Homo sapiens: one gene and its partners. The protein of the gene in region 2 purifies or fractionates together with the protein of the main gene of each other region. This does not show direct contact. Each region holds a gene or a part of one and is shown on either strand. Other genes may lie near its edges.

Evidence for each region. Proteins that work in one complex are often made in the same cells at the same time.
Region 1: the proteins of PHAX (region 2) and LIMD1 purify together in Homo sapiens (affinity purification with mass spectrometry; one large-scale study listed by BioGRID and IntAct). This does not show direct contact.
Region 3: the proteins of PHAX (region 2) and FLNB purify together in Homo sapiens (affinity purification with mass spectrometry; one large-scale study listed by BioGRID and IntAct). This does not show direct contact.
Region 4: the proteins of PHAX (region 2) and G3BP2 fractionate together in Homo sapiens (co-fractionation; one large-scale study listed by BioGRID). This does not show direct contact.

The regions. Positions count from the first base shown.
Region 1 is NC_000003.12:45,681,751-45,684,295, forward strand, and holds part of LIMD1 (LIM domain-containing protein 1), read left to right. Parts: 3' UTR 1-2,545. UniProt on the Homo sapiens protein: Adapter or scaffold protein which participates in the assembly of numerous protein complexes and is involved in several cellular processes such as cell fate determination, cytoskeletal organization, repression of gene transcription, cell-cell adhesion, cell differentiation, proliferation and migration.
Region 2 is NC_000005.10:126,613,406-126,618,636, reverse strand, and holds part of PHAX (phosphorylated adapter RNA export protein), read right to left. Parts: intron 1,388-5,231; coding exon 1,304-1,387; intron 1-1,303. UniProt on the Homo sapiens protein: A phosphoprotein adapter involved in the XPO1-mediated U snRNA export from the nucleus.
Region 3 is NC_000003.12:58,168,922-58,172,421, forward strand, and holds the end of FLNB (filamin-B), read left to right. Parts: intron 1-668; coding exon 669-872; intron 873-1,575; exon of another isoform or gene 1,576-1,653; coding exon 1,654-1,841; 3' UTR 1,842-2,855; coding exon of another isoform or gene 2,856-2,952; 3' UTR 2,953-3,149; coding exon of another isoform or gene 3,150-3,240; 3' UTR 3,241-3,330; downstream 3,331-3,500. Other genes in the region: uncharacterized protein LOC124909485, read left to right, coding at 2,856-2,952, 3,150-3,240. UniProt on the Homo sapiens protein: Connects cell membrane constituents to the actin cytoskeleton. May promote orthogonal branching of actin filaments and links actin filaments to membrane glycoproteins. Anchors various transmembrane proteins to the actin cytoskeleton.
Region 4 is NC_000004.12:75,645,912-75,649,411, forward strand, and holds part of G3BP2 (ras GTPase-activating protein-binding protein 2), read right to left. Parts: intron 2,831-3,500; coding exon 2,728-2,830; intron 1,247-2,727; coding exon 1,118-1,246; intron 546-1,117; coding exon 427-545; intron 1-426.

The sequences.
Region 1 (2,545 bases), on a different chromosome or scaffold from region 2:
TGGTGTCTATTCTTACCAGATGTATAAAAATGTGAGAGGCCTTGGAGAATCATATCCCAAGAATCAGCAGTTTCTTTTACTGGACCTTTAAGATTGAGACTTGTAAGGTCCTGATGCAGTGACTTGTAAGGTCACTTTGTCTCTCTTGTGAATGTTACTGTTTTTTCTCTTCTGAGGTTATGACCAAAGAATCCTCAAGGCGAGTGATCCTTCAGGTTTGAGACAGCCACATGCAGGAAGACAGGACTTGTAGAGTGTTGGGGCCAAGTGTGTGGTTAGAATCCTTGGGGTGGGGAAAGAGTTTGTTCTAGACTCCAGTGTAGTCCTTGTGGCTACCAGGTCTGACGTGCCAAGGACACGGGAAAGCTGGGAGTGAGGATACTCATAGTCATAGCACCTTACACCAGAATAAAAGTTTTTTTTTTCTTTTTAAGTGATGAGAGAATGGCTAGTCTGATTTTGCCAACATGGGCTGCTATTTGCTTAAGACCTTGATGGTATAAGGAGTGAAGATGCAATCAGGGTAAAAGGCGGTCTGGAGTTGTGGTGTGCTGGCAAACCAGCCCTCTGGGGCAAAAAATTAAAAAGCCTTGATATGGAGTGTTTGCTGATACCTATGATGTAAATATTCCCGCCATGGCCACTTTCCAGCTACCAGCAAGGCATCCTGGCACCAGGGATTGGGAGGAGATGGCATAGTCCTAAGAGTCAGCCTTGGGCATTGGGCCATGTGGGACTGGGCAGTGGGGTATCTGGTCTGGTTCTAAGTGCTGTGATGAAGCAGTAGCAGCTGTAATAGCTGGCATTTCCCGTGTGCTCATCACATAGCAGATGTTATTCCAAGGACTGTATGTTCTTTATCATCCCTCATTTGATAGACAAGACAACTGAGACACAAAAGGGTGAAATAAACAGTAAGTACTCCATCCCAGGCCATCTCATCCAGAGGGTGCTGTCTTGACCACTCTACTACTCTGGTTGATGGGAGGCAGTAAATTGTCCATCAGTATACTTCTTCATCAAAGCTACATAGTCAAAAAGCCACAGGAGGCTGTGAGGAGAAGCTCACTGCTGCTCTGTTGAAGTCTGTATTGGTTTCCTATGGCCACTCTTAACAAATTACCACAACCTCAGTGGCTTAAAACAACACAAATATATCATTCTGTCATCCTGGACACGAGCCAAAGGTTGTCGGCAGAAGCGAATTGCTTCCAGAGGTGCTATAGGGTGCTGCCCATTCCTTGCCCCTTTTCCGCTTCTAGAGGCTGCCCATTTTCCTTGGCTTGTGGCTGCATCATTCTGGCTGCTTCTATTGTCACACCTCCTCTCTGACCCTCCCTGCCTCCTTGTAAGGACACTTGGGATTACGCCCATCCAGATAATCTAGAATAATCTCCCATTTTGTGATTCTTAATAACATCTGCAAAGCCTCTTTTACCTTGCAGAATAAGATATTCACAGGTTCTGGTGAGGAGGACAGGGACATCTCTGAAGGGGAGGGAAGCAGGAGATAGGGTCTGGAGGCATGGAATTGGCTTCCTAAGGCCAATTCAGGCTGACTTCCTAGAACTAAGTCAAAAGGAAAACCCCAACTTTCCACGCTCAAGTAACAAAAGGACCAGAGGCTACTCCCTTTGCAACCTCCCCACCCCCAGCCCCTTTTCTGCATGGCAGGTGAAAAATTGAAAGTATCGCTAATTGATCCCCTCCCACAACCAATCAGACTGGTCTTAGGCCAAGTCTTCATTTGCCTAGGAGTATAACTTTGTAACTTCAGCCTCTGATTGGGCGTTTTACACAACCAGTCAGATGTTTGTATAGGGTGGTGTAACTTTGTAACTTTGCTTCAGCCTCTGATTGGTCCCCTCCCACAACCAATCAAACTGATCATGGACCTCTGCTTCATTTACATAGGGTGTACACCAAGTAACCAATGGGAAACCTCTAGAGGGTATTTAAATCCCAGAAAATTCTGTAACCGGGTTCTTGAGCTGCTTGGGCTGCTCCCACCCTGTGGAGCGTACTTTCGTTTTTCAATAAATCTCTTTTGTTGCTTCATTCTTTACTTGCTTTGTGCGTTTTGTCCATTTCTTTATCAAGACGCCAAGAACCTGGACACCCTCCACCGGTAACAGGAGGAGCATTAGTCAGCCTACCACAGACTCCAACGAACGTTTTTTGAGAGGAAATGAAAGAATATTCCTAAGTTATTGGGTGCCTTTTCTTCAGGAATCCCTGAAAGTGGGGGTTTGCAATTTTCCCTGGATTGAAAACAGAAATGCTTCCTACACAAACATGATTGAGACCTTGTACTCTAGGTGTAAAAAAACAGAGTAGGTCATACTCTGTGGGTTATGGTCAGAGAGATCTGGTTAGAAGTTCCCAGGTAGGCGACAGCCCTAGATGTGTGACACTTCTAGGAGAATCTCTGGCTATGTGGATACGTCCAGGTGTGTAAGGCAGCCTCAGGGACTGCCACCACTTGGTCACATACATGTCCCTCCAACTAATCCTAGCTCTCAAGGACAGGTGGTTCTGGGCCCTG
Region 2 (5,231 bases):
AAAAAAAAAAATTTAATTAAAAATATATAATACAGGAGGAGATACAACAAATGGAATATGGAAACCTAGACTGTATTCTGCTTAGGGGGAAAGTATATAAAATATATTCTTGGGACAAATTAGGAAATTGGAATAAGGTCTAGATATTGAATACTATGAAATTGTTTTTATTTCTCTTAGGAGTGATAATGGGTCTTGTGGTTATGTAGGGTATTGTCATTACTGGGAGATACTTTTTTTTTGTATTTTTTTTTTGGTGGGGGATGGCACCAAGCTGAAGTGTTAACTGTACACTCACTCCAGACTCATTGCCTGCCCTTACGCTTGTTCAAATAATTAGAACTAAGCATCTGATGCTTGTTATTTATTTCCACATGGAACAGGAAAAGACTGTATAGGCCAGGCGTGGTGGCTCATGCCTATAATCCCAACACTCTGGGAGGCTGAGGTGGGTGGATCACTAGAGCCCAGAGTTCCAGACCAGCCTGGGCAACATCTCTACAAAAAATACAAAAATTAGCTGGGTGTAATGGCATATGCCTGTACTCCCAGTTACTCTGGAGGCTGAGGTGGGAGGACTACTTGAGCCCAGGAGGCAGAGGCTGCAGTGAACAGAAATTGCGCCACTGCACTCCAGCCTGGGCAATAGAGCCAGGTCCTTAGACCCTGTCTCAAGGGGAAAAAAGAAAGAAAGAAATAGAGAAACAAATAAAAAGTGTATAGGTAAAGAAAGAATGGTTCATGCCTGTAATTGCAGCACTTTGGGAGACTGGGGCAGGAGGATTGCTTGAGCCGAGACGTACAAGACCAGCCTGGGCAACACAGCAAGACCCCGTCTCTACAAAGAATAAAAGGCTGGCTGGGAGCACTGGCTCACGCCTGTAATCCCAGCACTTTGTGGGGGCCGAGACGGGCGGACTGCTTGAGGTCAGGAGTTTGAGACCAGTCTGGCCAATATGGTGAAACCCCGTCTCTACTAAAAATACAAAAATCAGCCAGGCATGGTGGCATGTGCCTGTAATCCCAGCTACTTGGGAGGCTGAGGCACGAGAATCACTTGAACCCGGGAGGCGGAGGTTGCAGTGAGCTGAGATCATGCCACTACACTCCAGCCTGGGTGACAGAGTGAGACTCCGCCTCAAAAATAAATAAATAAATAAAAGGCATAAATGTTACTTAAGATAATAACAAAATCAGTCCACTGAAGGCAGAACAGGTAATGCATATCCATAGAAAATGAAGGTAGAGGGTGAGTAGAAGTCAAATTATGATGGCGCTTAAGAGGTGAGGACATTATCATTACCTTAATTTGTTCCTCGCTGATACTAGGAGTGTTTTTCAAGAGATTCAGAAAAACTCCACCTGGTGTTCTTCTTCGACTACCATTCTACAAAAAGGAACAGAAAAGGTAAACTGCATATACTCTTCCCATAAATGGTCAAGGCATCTTTTAACAGAGACACAATTAAGGGGATAGAAGAAATACCAGATCTGAAGTCCAGTCCTGATTCTGACTCTTACAAAATAGGTAACATGAGTAAATTACCGAAATATGAGTTTCAGTTTCTTCATCTATAAAATGAAGGCCAAAAATATTTGGTCTTTTTTAATTCTGAAATTCCGTGATTTAAAAAATCTATATGGTAACAAAGAGAAATAGGCCACTCAGCTCAAATGACCTAACAAATGACTGGATTTTCTGTTTTAATCTGCCACCTGGCTAAGTCAGTGAATATTCTTTTTTTTTTTTTTTTTTGAGATGGAGTTTCACTCTTTCGCTCAGGCTGGAGTGAAATGGCGCGATCTCGGCTCACTGCAGCCTCTGCCCTCCGGGGTTCAAGCGTTTCTCCTGCCTCAGCCTCCTGAGTAGCTGGGATTATAGGCACTCCCCACCACGCCTGGCGAATTTTTGTATTTTTAGTAGAAACGGGGTTTCGCCATGTTGGCCAGCCTGGTCTCAAACTCCTGACCTCAGGCGATCTGCCCGCCTCAGCCTCACAAAGTGCTAGGATTACAGGTGTGAGCCACCGCACCCACCATGAATATTCTATTAGATGTTAAAACACATCATAAACTCTAAATAATTAAAACAGTATGGTTCCAAAATAAAACTAGAATGATCAGTGAAGCAAAATAGAAAACCTAGAAAAAAAAGCCAAATATATATGGGTATTTAGTCTATGATACAGATACTATCTTAAATTGGAGAAGATAAATGTATTATTCAAGAATTGGCATTTGAGGCTGGGCGCAGTTGCTCACGCCTGTAATCCCAGCACTTTGGACGCCGAGGCGGGTGGATCACCTGAGGTCAGGAATTCAAGACTAGCCTGGTCAACAACATGGTGAAACCCTGTCTCTATCAAAAACACAAAAATTAGCTGGGCATGGTAGCACATATCTGTAATCCCAGCTACTTGGGAGGCTAAGGCAGGAGAATCACTTGAACCCAGGAGGTGGAGGTTGCAGTGAACCGAGACTGTGCCATTGCACTCTAGCCTGGACGACAAGAGCAAACCTCCATTTCATTTTTTTTTTTTTGAGACAAAGTCTCATGCAAACCTCTATTTCAAAAAAAAAAAAAAAAAAGTTGGTGGTTGAGCTACTGGGTAGCCACCATGGAAAATATTATGTTGGATTCACACCTCATGTCTTATACCAAGATATATTCCAAAGGGATCAAATATTTAAATGTATATATATAATAAATCAGATATATATACACACATACAGTGGCTTCTCAATAGTCATGGTAGTTACGTTTTATAAAGTTGCTGCAAACATTGAATTAGCAAATATTGAAACATTCCTTCTGAAAAATACAGGGTTAGGTTCCTGAAAGCCTCTGATAGACAACACTTTTGTCAACAGATCAGTATATAACCTTGTATGTATCTTGGTTTAAAGACACCTTATTGAAAACATATTGTTGATTCATTAACATTGAATTAGTGGCCAACAGCCTATAACTCATGCCTAAACGATGCTTATCTAACCATATTTTCTCTCTAACGCATGTCACAGTCTTCTTGCACTTAGAAACACTAGTTGGCACTACAGCACTACCCTTGGAGGGGCCATTTTAAACAGCAAAATCCCCAGAGGGGCGCAAAAAAAAAAAAAAAAAAGCACAGAATGTGAAAAAGATGGCACTAAAATAGACCTTGAAAAGAACACCTGTTTATAGTATGGAAGCTGAAACAAAGCAATGTTGCCCTGTTTGACCTCAGCTAAGCATGTGCATGTCGGACAACTCAAATTTTTTTAGACACTGCACATCTGTGAATGACTGTGAAACCACCACTAGTATTGATTTGAGGTTATGAATAACTTTTACCAGGTAGGCAAATTTGAAAATATAAAATCTACAAATAATGAGGATCGACTGAGCATGTATGTCATATACACATAGTCATATAAATTATGATATAACTATTCACTGGAATGCTAGCAACTGCAAAAAAGAATGAGGGGGCTCTCTACATACTTGATAAGGTTTCTAAGAGAAATTAAGTTAAAAAAAAAAAGCAAGGTATAGAATAGTATGCATAGTATATGACCATTTGTGTAAAAACAAGTGTGTTAGGGCCGGGTACGGTGGCTCACGCCTGTAATCCCAGCACTTTGGGAGGCCAAAGTGGGCAGATCATGAGGTCAGGAGTTTGAGACCAGCCTAACATGGTGAAACCTTGTTTCTATTAAAAATATAAAAATTAGCTGGGCGTGGTGGTGTGTGCCTGTAATCCCAGCTACTTCGGAGGCTGAGGCAGGAGAATCGCTTGAACCCGGGAGGCAGAGGTTGCAGTAAGCCGAGATCGCACCACTGCACTCTAGCCTGGGTGACAGAGCGAGACTCCATCTCAAAAAAAATAATGGGTGTTGGAGAGGAGTCTGGGTGGCTCAAGGATAGGTGTGGTCCGGGTAGCCTCTCACTACACACTCTTTTACTGATTTTTTATTGTGATAATAAAGACATGACAAAAAAATTTTGTCATCTTCACAATTTTTAAGTGTACAGTTCAGTAGTAAAGTATATTTACACGGTTATAAAACAGATCTCCAAAACTGTTTCATCTTGCAAATCTGAAACTCTGTACACATAAATTTCCCTTAGCCTCCTCCCTTTAGCCCTTGATACTCTTTCTTGTTTTACCATGTGAACTGGTTGCCTATTCAAATAACTGAATTTTTAAAAATAAGGAAATAGGTACATATACACACTTGTGGCCGGGTGCGGTGACTCACGGGTTGGGTGTTGGGTATTATACCCAACACTTTGGGAGGCCGAGACGGGTGGATCACTTGAGGTCAGGAGTTTGAGACCAGCCTGGCCAACATGGTGAAACCCTGTTTCTAATAAAAATACAAAATTAGCTGGACATGGTGGGATATGCCTGTAATCCCAGTTACTCAGAAGGCTGAGGGCAGGAGAATTGTTTGAATCTGGGAGGCAGAGGTTGCAGTGAGCTGAGATGGCAACACTGTACTCCACCCTGGGTGACAGAGCAAGACTGTCTCAAATATATGTTAATTGCAGAAAAAGTAGCAAAAACATGCGGTTAAAAGAAAAAATAGGCGGGGTACAATGGCTCACACCTGTAATCCTAGAGGCAGATGGATTGCTTGAGTGCCCAGGAGTTTGAGACCAGCCTGGGCAACATGGTGAAACCCTGTCTCTACAAAAAATACAAAAATTAGCTGGGCATTGTGGCTTAAGCCTATAGTCCCAGCTACTTGGGAGACTGAAGTGGAAGGACTGCTTGAGCCAGGGAGGTCGAGGCTGCAGTGACCTGCGATTGTGCCACTGTACTCCAGCCTGGATGACAGAGTGAGACCCTGTATCAAAAAGGAAAAAAAAAAAGAAAGAAAGAAAAAGAAAAGAAAAAAACCACCCATGATCCTACTAACCATAGGTAATCACTGTAACATTTTGACACATATAATCTTTTTACTTTTTTCTGACACAGTCTCGCTCTTCACCCAGGCTGAAGTGAGGTGGTGTGATCATGCCTCACTGCAGCTCGACCTTCTGGGCTCAAGGGATCCTCCCACCTCCTTAGCCTCCCAAGTAGCTGGGACTACAAGCATGTGCCACAACATACAGCTAATTTTTGTATTTTTTTGGTAGAGATAAGGTTTCACCATGTCACCCAGGCTGGTCTCAGGATTACACACGTGTGAGCCACCACACCTGGACATCTTTTTACTTTTTTATATGCCACATATATTTG
Region 3 (3,500 bases), on a different chromosome or scaffold from region 2:
TACGTATTTGTTTAGATCAGGGTCTGAAAAATCCCCTGATTTCTAATTTTCACTTGAAAAATAATCAAAAAGTTTTCCTATACTTATAAAAATGTGTCTCCTCCAAAACACTGGAAAAAATACCAAACTATGAAAACCACTTCACAGCCACCACCCAAGGTAACCACCATAAACACTGTAGTAAATCCCTTCCACACGTCATGATTCACTGTTACATAAAGAATGTAGGTTCATCGCAGGAAAATTAGAAAATTCAGATAGAAAAATCATCCTTTCTCATCCACAGAATCATTTTTTGATATTTCATTATATGTCATCCCAAACTTTTACACTGCTTATACATAGACTATTTTATGTCAATAGAAAGATGTGAATTCCACAGGCACATCTTTGGTGGGTAGGGGGTGGGGGGATTGGGAGGGTCCTTGGCCTTGTCAGCCAAGGCCAGACTCATCCATTTGCCCAGAAAGCCAGATCCTAGTTGTATGGGGGTGGGATCCTAGGGGTTTAGAAGACATTATGGGTGTGAGATACAGGTGTGGTGGCTTTTGTGTTGGGGTGCGCGGGCTCTCCTGGGGTTACTGTGTAGGGTACTCGCCTGTCCTCTGGCTGAGAGACCCCTCTTGATCTGGCCATTCATGCCTGTCCCCCTCCCTCCTGTATCTTAGGCCAGCGTCTAGTTAGCCCTGGCTCAGCCAACGAGACCTCATCCATCCTGGTGGAGTCAGTGACCAGGTCGTCTACAGAGACCTGCTATAGCGCCATTCCCAAGGCATCCTCGGACGCCAGCAAGGTGACCTCTAAGGGGGCAGGGCTCTCAAAGGCCTTTGTGGGCCAGAAGAGTTCCTTCCTGGTGGACTGCAGCAAAGCTGGTAGGTGTCTGGGCCTTTTCAAGGGTGGGGTGGGGCAGGGGCAGGCTGGGCACCCTGGGTACACTGGCCTTCCCTGCTGAGGTCTCCTGCAGTGCCCACCCCCATGTAGGCCAGCCGTTTGCAAGTAACCATCGTCATGACCCTGTTCTCCTGCACTTAATATTTTTAAATGATTTCCTTCTCTTTTGCCTTTTGAACTTGGGTATTTATTTGGGTTTCAAGGGTCGGTTGCCTGGGTTCTGGCATCCAGTACACCTGGGCTGGAAACCTAGTACCGCCACTTCATTCATTCATTCGTTTGTTCTAAAACTTATTTAGCCATGTGACCTTGGAAAGTTATTAAATCTCTTTCCAAAAGTCAGTTTCCTCTTCTCGGAAGTACCTTCCTTAAGGTGCTTGTGAGAGTAAACAAGAAGATTCTCATAGCCAACACTTAGAATAGCCCTTACTGTGTGCTAGGTTTTGACACCCATAACTCTTAAACCTCACAACTAGTTCGTGAGGTATGTGCTGTTCTCATTCCCTGTTTACAGATGGGGAAGCTGAGCTAGGGAGAGGTGAGATTCCAGTCCAAGGTCACCCAGGTAGCAAGTGGCAGGGCAGGGATTCGAACCCACACCGTCAGGCTCTATGAGCCTCTGCTTGTAATTGCCACGCTCTCCCACCTCTTAGGGGCCCCAGCATTATCGTGGAAGCACCTTACCTTTGGCTCTCATATTTCCTCTTCTTCCTGTGCCTGTCCTGATGCATCCGGGTGGAGTAACCACCTTTTGCCTCCTAGGCTCCAACATGCTGCTGATCGGGGTCCATGGGCCCACCACCCCCTGCGAGGAGGTCTCCATGAAGCATGTAGGCAACCAGCAATACAACGTCACATACGTCGTCAAGGAGAGGGGCGATTATGTGCTGGCTGTGAAGTGGGGGGAGGAACACATCCCTGGCAGCCCTTTTCATGTCACAGTGCCTTAAAACAGTTTTCTCAAATCCTGGAGAGAGTTCTTGTGGTTGCTTTTGTTGCTTGTTTGTAATTCATTTTATACAAAGCCCTCCAGCCTGTTTGTGGGGCTGAAACCCCATCCCTAAAATATTGCTGTTGTAAAATGCCTTCAGAAATAAGTCCTAGACTGGACTCTTGAGGGACATATTGGAGAATCTTAAGAAATGCAAGCTTGTTCAGGGGGCTGAGAAGATCCTGAGTACACTAGGTGCAAACCAGAACTCTTGGTGGAACAGACCAGCCACTGCAGCAGACAGACCAGGAACACAATGAGACTGACATTTCAAAAAAACAAAACTGGCTAGCCTGAGCTGCTGGTTCACTCTTCAGCATTTATGAAACAAGGCTAGGGGAAGATGGGCAGAGAAAAAGGGGACACCTAGTTTGGTTGTCATTTGGCAAAGGAGATGACTTAAAATCCGCTTAATCTCTTCCAGTGTCCGTGTTAATGTATTTGGCTATTAGATCACTAGCACTGCTTTACCGCTCCTCATCGCCAACACCCCCATGCTCTGTGGCCTTCTTACACTTCTCAGAGGGCAGAGTGGCAGCCGGGCACCCTACAGAAACTCAGAGGGCAGAGTGGCAGCCAGGCCCACATGTCTCTCAAGTACCTGTCCCCTCGCTCTGGTGATTATTTCTTGCAGAATCACCACACGAGACCATCCCGGCAGTCATGGTTTTGCTTTAGTTTTCCAAGTCCGTTTCAGTCCCTTCCTTGGTCTGAAGAAATTCTGCAGTGGCGAGCAGTTTCCCACTTGCCAAAGATCCCTTTTAACCAACACTAGCCCTTGTTTTTAACACACGCTCCAGCCCTTCATCAGCCTGGGCAGTCTTACCAAAATGTTTAAAGTGATCTCAGAGGGGCCCATGGATTAACGCCCTCATCCCAAGGTCCGTCCCATGACATAACACTCCACACCCGCCCCAGCCAACTTCATGGGTCACTTTTTCTGGAAAATAATGATCTGTACAGACAGGACAGAATGAAACTCCTGCGGGTCTTTGGCCTGAAAGTTGGGAATGGTTGGGGGAGAGAAGGGCAGCAGCTTATTGGTGGTCTTTTCACCATTGGCAGAAACAGTGAGAGCTGTGTGGTGCAGAAATCCAGAAATGAGGTGTAGGGAATTTTGCCTGCCTTCCTGCAGACCTGAGCTGGCTTTGGAATGAGGTTAAAGTGTCAGGGACGTTGCCTGAGCCCAAATGTGTAGTGTGGTCTGGGCAGGCAGACCTTTAGGTTTTGCTGCTTAGTCCTGAGGAAGTGGCCACTCTTGTGGCAGGTGTAGTATCTGGGGCGAGTGTTGGGGGTAAAAGCCCACCCTACAGAAAGTGGAACAGCCCGGAGCCTGATGTGAAAGGACCACGGGTGTTGTAAGCTGGGACACGGAAGCCAAACTGGAATCAAACGCCGACTGTAAATTGTATCTTATAACTTATTAAATAAAACATTTGCTCCGTAAAGTTGCCTTGGTGTTCTTGGATGATGTCGCTTCTGAATAAATTGTTTAATCCTAGGAGTTCAACACCCTCAGCCTGGGTAACAGCAAGACCCAGCCTCTACAAAAAATTAAAAAATTAGCCAGCATGGTGATGCATGCCTGCAGTCCCAGCTACTCAGGAGGCGGAGGCAG
Region 4 (3,500 bases), on a different chromosome or scaffold from region 2:
GTGATACTCCCACCTCAGCCTCCTGAGTAGCTGGGATTATAGGTGTCTACCACCATGGCCGGCTATTTTTCTTTTTTTGTAGAGACAATGTCTCACTGTTGCCCAGGCTGGTCTTGAACTCTCCTGGGCTCAAGCAATCCTTCTGCCTTAACTTCCCAAAGTGCTGGGATTACAAGTGTGAGCCACTATACCCAGCCAAAATTCTTAACATGCAATCTTGCAATCTTTCCCACCTTCTTCAGCAAAGCAAGTAACAAAATTTAAAATGATCTGCAAACTAACAAATCTTTATTCTTTGCATAAATACCATTTAATAACTATTTTTAGCTTTATTATTAAAAGATTTTCTATGGTTTTTAAATACCCCAAATTAATATATACAACAGAAATAATAAAGTCTTGAATTATGCCCTTTAAATCACTTACTTTTGCAATTAAGATTCTCTGAACTGGTTCAGAGTCATCAAAAACCACAAAACCAAAATTTGGAAGCTTTCCCCCAACACCCTTGGTATTGATGCGAAGTTCCACAACGTTTCCAAAACCTGTGAAAATATACATTACATCAAGGGTTAAATATTTTTAACAGAATACCTTGATGGCTCTAATTGTTCAGGATGAATATCGTTATCTCCCCGATCCATTTTAAAATAAAACTCGCAAGCTTCTACACACAGTGATAGCCAAGGTACGTTTACTCAAGCAGGCAATCCCCTAAGATACCAAGTAGCCTGCCCGCCTGCTGTGTTACCTTTCTGCATCTTTGGTAGTCCTTTCATAAGTAAAGTTAACTGCATAATTTTGGAAAGACAATGTATTTTCTCCTAATATATTGACCCATTTGCCAAATGAATCCTTTATCTCTGAATTTATGACTGATTTATCCAGCTGTTTCTTCTAAACACTACTGAGCCAGGCCAAATCAACACTAAGCAGTCACTGAGAAACATGTGAGATAAGTCATCTACTCCCTTCTGCACAATTAAGGTGGGTCTGGTAGCTGGACACAGTATAAAGAGAGAAACATTTAAAAAAAATAGTTATTAAAAAAGCTCCATATGCCTCTTGCTTAATTTAAAATAATTTAAAAACTCCAACAGCAAAATAAATCACTTACTCATGAAGAATTCCTTTAGCTCATTTTCATCAATATCATGTGGCAAGTTACCAACAAAAAGTTGATGACTATCTGGATAGCGAATTATTCTACGGTTGTCAGAGTCATTCTGTTCCATATCTCCTCTGCCTGAGAATAGAAATAGAGCAGATACTAAAGTTTACAATATCATAAAAACTACTTCAAAGGAGTGAATGTAAAAATCACTTAATATTGATATTCCTGTTTTAGTTTAATAAGACTAGGTGAGCTTCTTGAAAAAGAGGCAAAAGTACTTATTACTAGTAGGTTAGAAAACAGCATGACACTAAAATGTAAAGTGAGGACAATGACTAGGTTGCTAAAATAGCTTCTTCTAGATCTACTGGATTATACAAAAATCAAATATTAGTACTACAGGTATTCCTCCTTAACCAAACTGTTGCCATCACCCAGGAACCAAGCAGATTTCAGATAGTGAGGTATAGCTTACTAAATATTTGCTTAGTTTTTTGAAATTCAAAATTCTTTGGCTTTATGACATTACAGCAATCAGTAAATTTTAACAGCAATCATCACATTTATGCAGTCTATACATATTAAGTGTGTATGTATATAGATATACATAAAATCTTATTTGATTCTCCCAATAACACAAGGAACACAGTGAGGAAAATAGGCAATACAAGAATAATTTGTGTAATATTTGACATAAAAGAAGCTCAGAATTTAAGGGTTTCACTCAAGATCCCAAGTTTAATCACTGACAAATTTAGGACTTCTAGTTTGGTAACATATCACTTTAAAAATTCACATTGTAAATGTGATATATACTATCTCCATCTCTCCCATCTCCTCCCCAAAGCAATCTAAACATTCTTACAGAGTTCAAATAAAAGTATTACATGTGTAGCTAACAAGGTAAACAAGTCAAAAATCATGGCAACTTACTTAATACCTAAGAATCAAAATGGGCTTATTGTTTATCTGTAAAGAGATAAGACTGCTAAGAGAGTAGGTTATTGGCAGCTTGGTTTTGAACTCTTAAAACCAGTGACTAGGCCGGGCACAGTGGCTCATGCCTGTAATCCCAGCACTTTGGGAGGACGAGTAGGGCAGATCATGAGGTCAGCAGATCGAGACCATCTTGGCCAACATGGTGAAACCCTGTCTCTACTAAAATACAGAAAATTAGCTGGGCCTGGTGGCGTGTGCCTGTAATCCCAGCTACTTGGGAGGCTGAGGCAAGGGAATCATTTGAACCCGGGAGACAGAGGTTGCAGTGAGCTGAGATCACGCCATTGTACTCCAGCCTGGCGACAGAGCAAGACTCCGTCTCAAAAAAAAAACAAACAAACAAAAAAAAAAAACAAAAAACCGTGACAATAACCAAATAAGACTTAAGTCTTTTACACCTTCAAAATATGTCACCATGGCATGTCAACCAATCCTCCCTAAAAATTGGTTATTTGGCCCCAGACACTATTTAGCAGGTTGCTCACATCACATCTTTAAGCAATTTGAGACTATATGGGTCTGTGTATAGAACGCATCATAGTTTTTTGTTTAAGTTCAGTCTTTTACAGCCTTACAAATGTTAAATGCTAAAGGCTATAAAGGAGCTGACTCACCTGGTCTTGGTCCTCTAGGAGGAAAACCAGGTCGTTCTCTAGGTCGTTGTTCACGCACACGAGGTGGCTGAGATTGAACTTCTGGTTTAGCTTCGACTCTTGGCTAAAATATAAAGAAAAAAAAACATTATAAAAAACACTCCACTGGAGAAAAACCAACCAAAGCACCTAACGACAAGTCACTAGCAGACATAACAGTAGTTTTAAGTTTAGAATGTTTTTAACATAGTGTCCTATGTATGAGAAAAATAAATTTTTATCAAGATATTCTGTACCAATCTAGGACTGTAGGTAGCTTTTGTTTTCCCACTTAATGCTGTGTAACTCACAATAAGTTGCTTTTTACAGTCACATTTTTTCATTAAAGTTATATCAACACTGAAATAGCATAAAAGGTATTGCTACCAAAAAAAAAAATCACAAAAATGCAAGATGAACCACTCCATGTAAATACATAAACAAAATTAAAAGCCATCTTCATCTTAGACAAGAATACATAACACATAATTTCTGAAAATCTAATTTGCTATCCTTCAAATGTAACAGTGCTCAGTAGTATTGCCTAAATCTCTGCCCATAACCTTAAAATCAGTATTTTTATAGTTCAAAGTATAAAAATTAGCTTGCTCTAACACCTGAAATTGCTACCTGTAAGGTTAAAATGCATGTTAAAAAAATGACAGAAACTTATAGGAACTTGTATGTAGCATCTCAAATAGTTAAAGTCCTTTAGCTCCCTACTGTTCTTCCTTATGAGAAAAATATGCATTTGA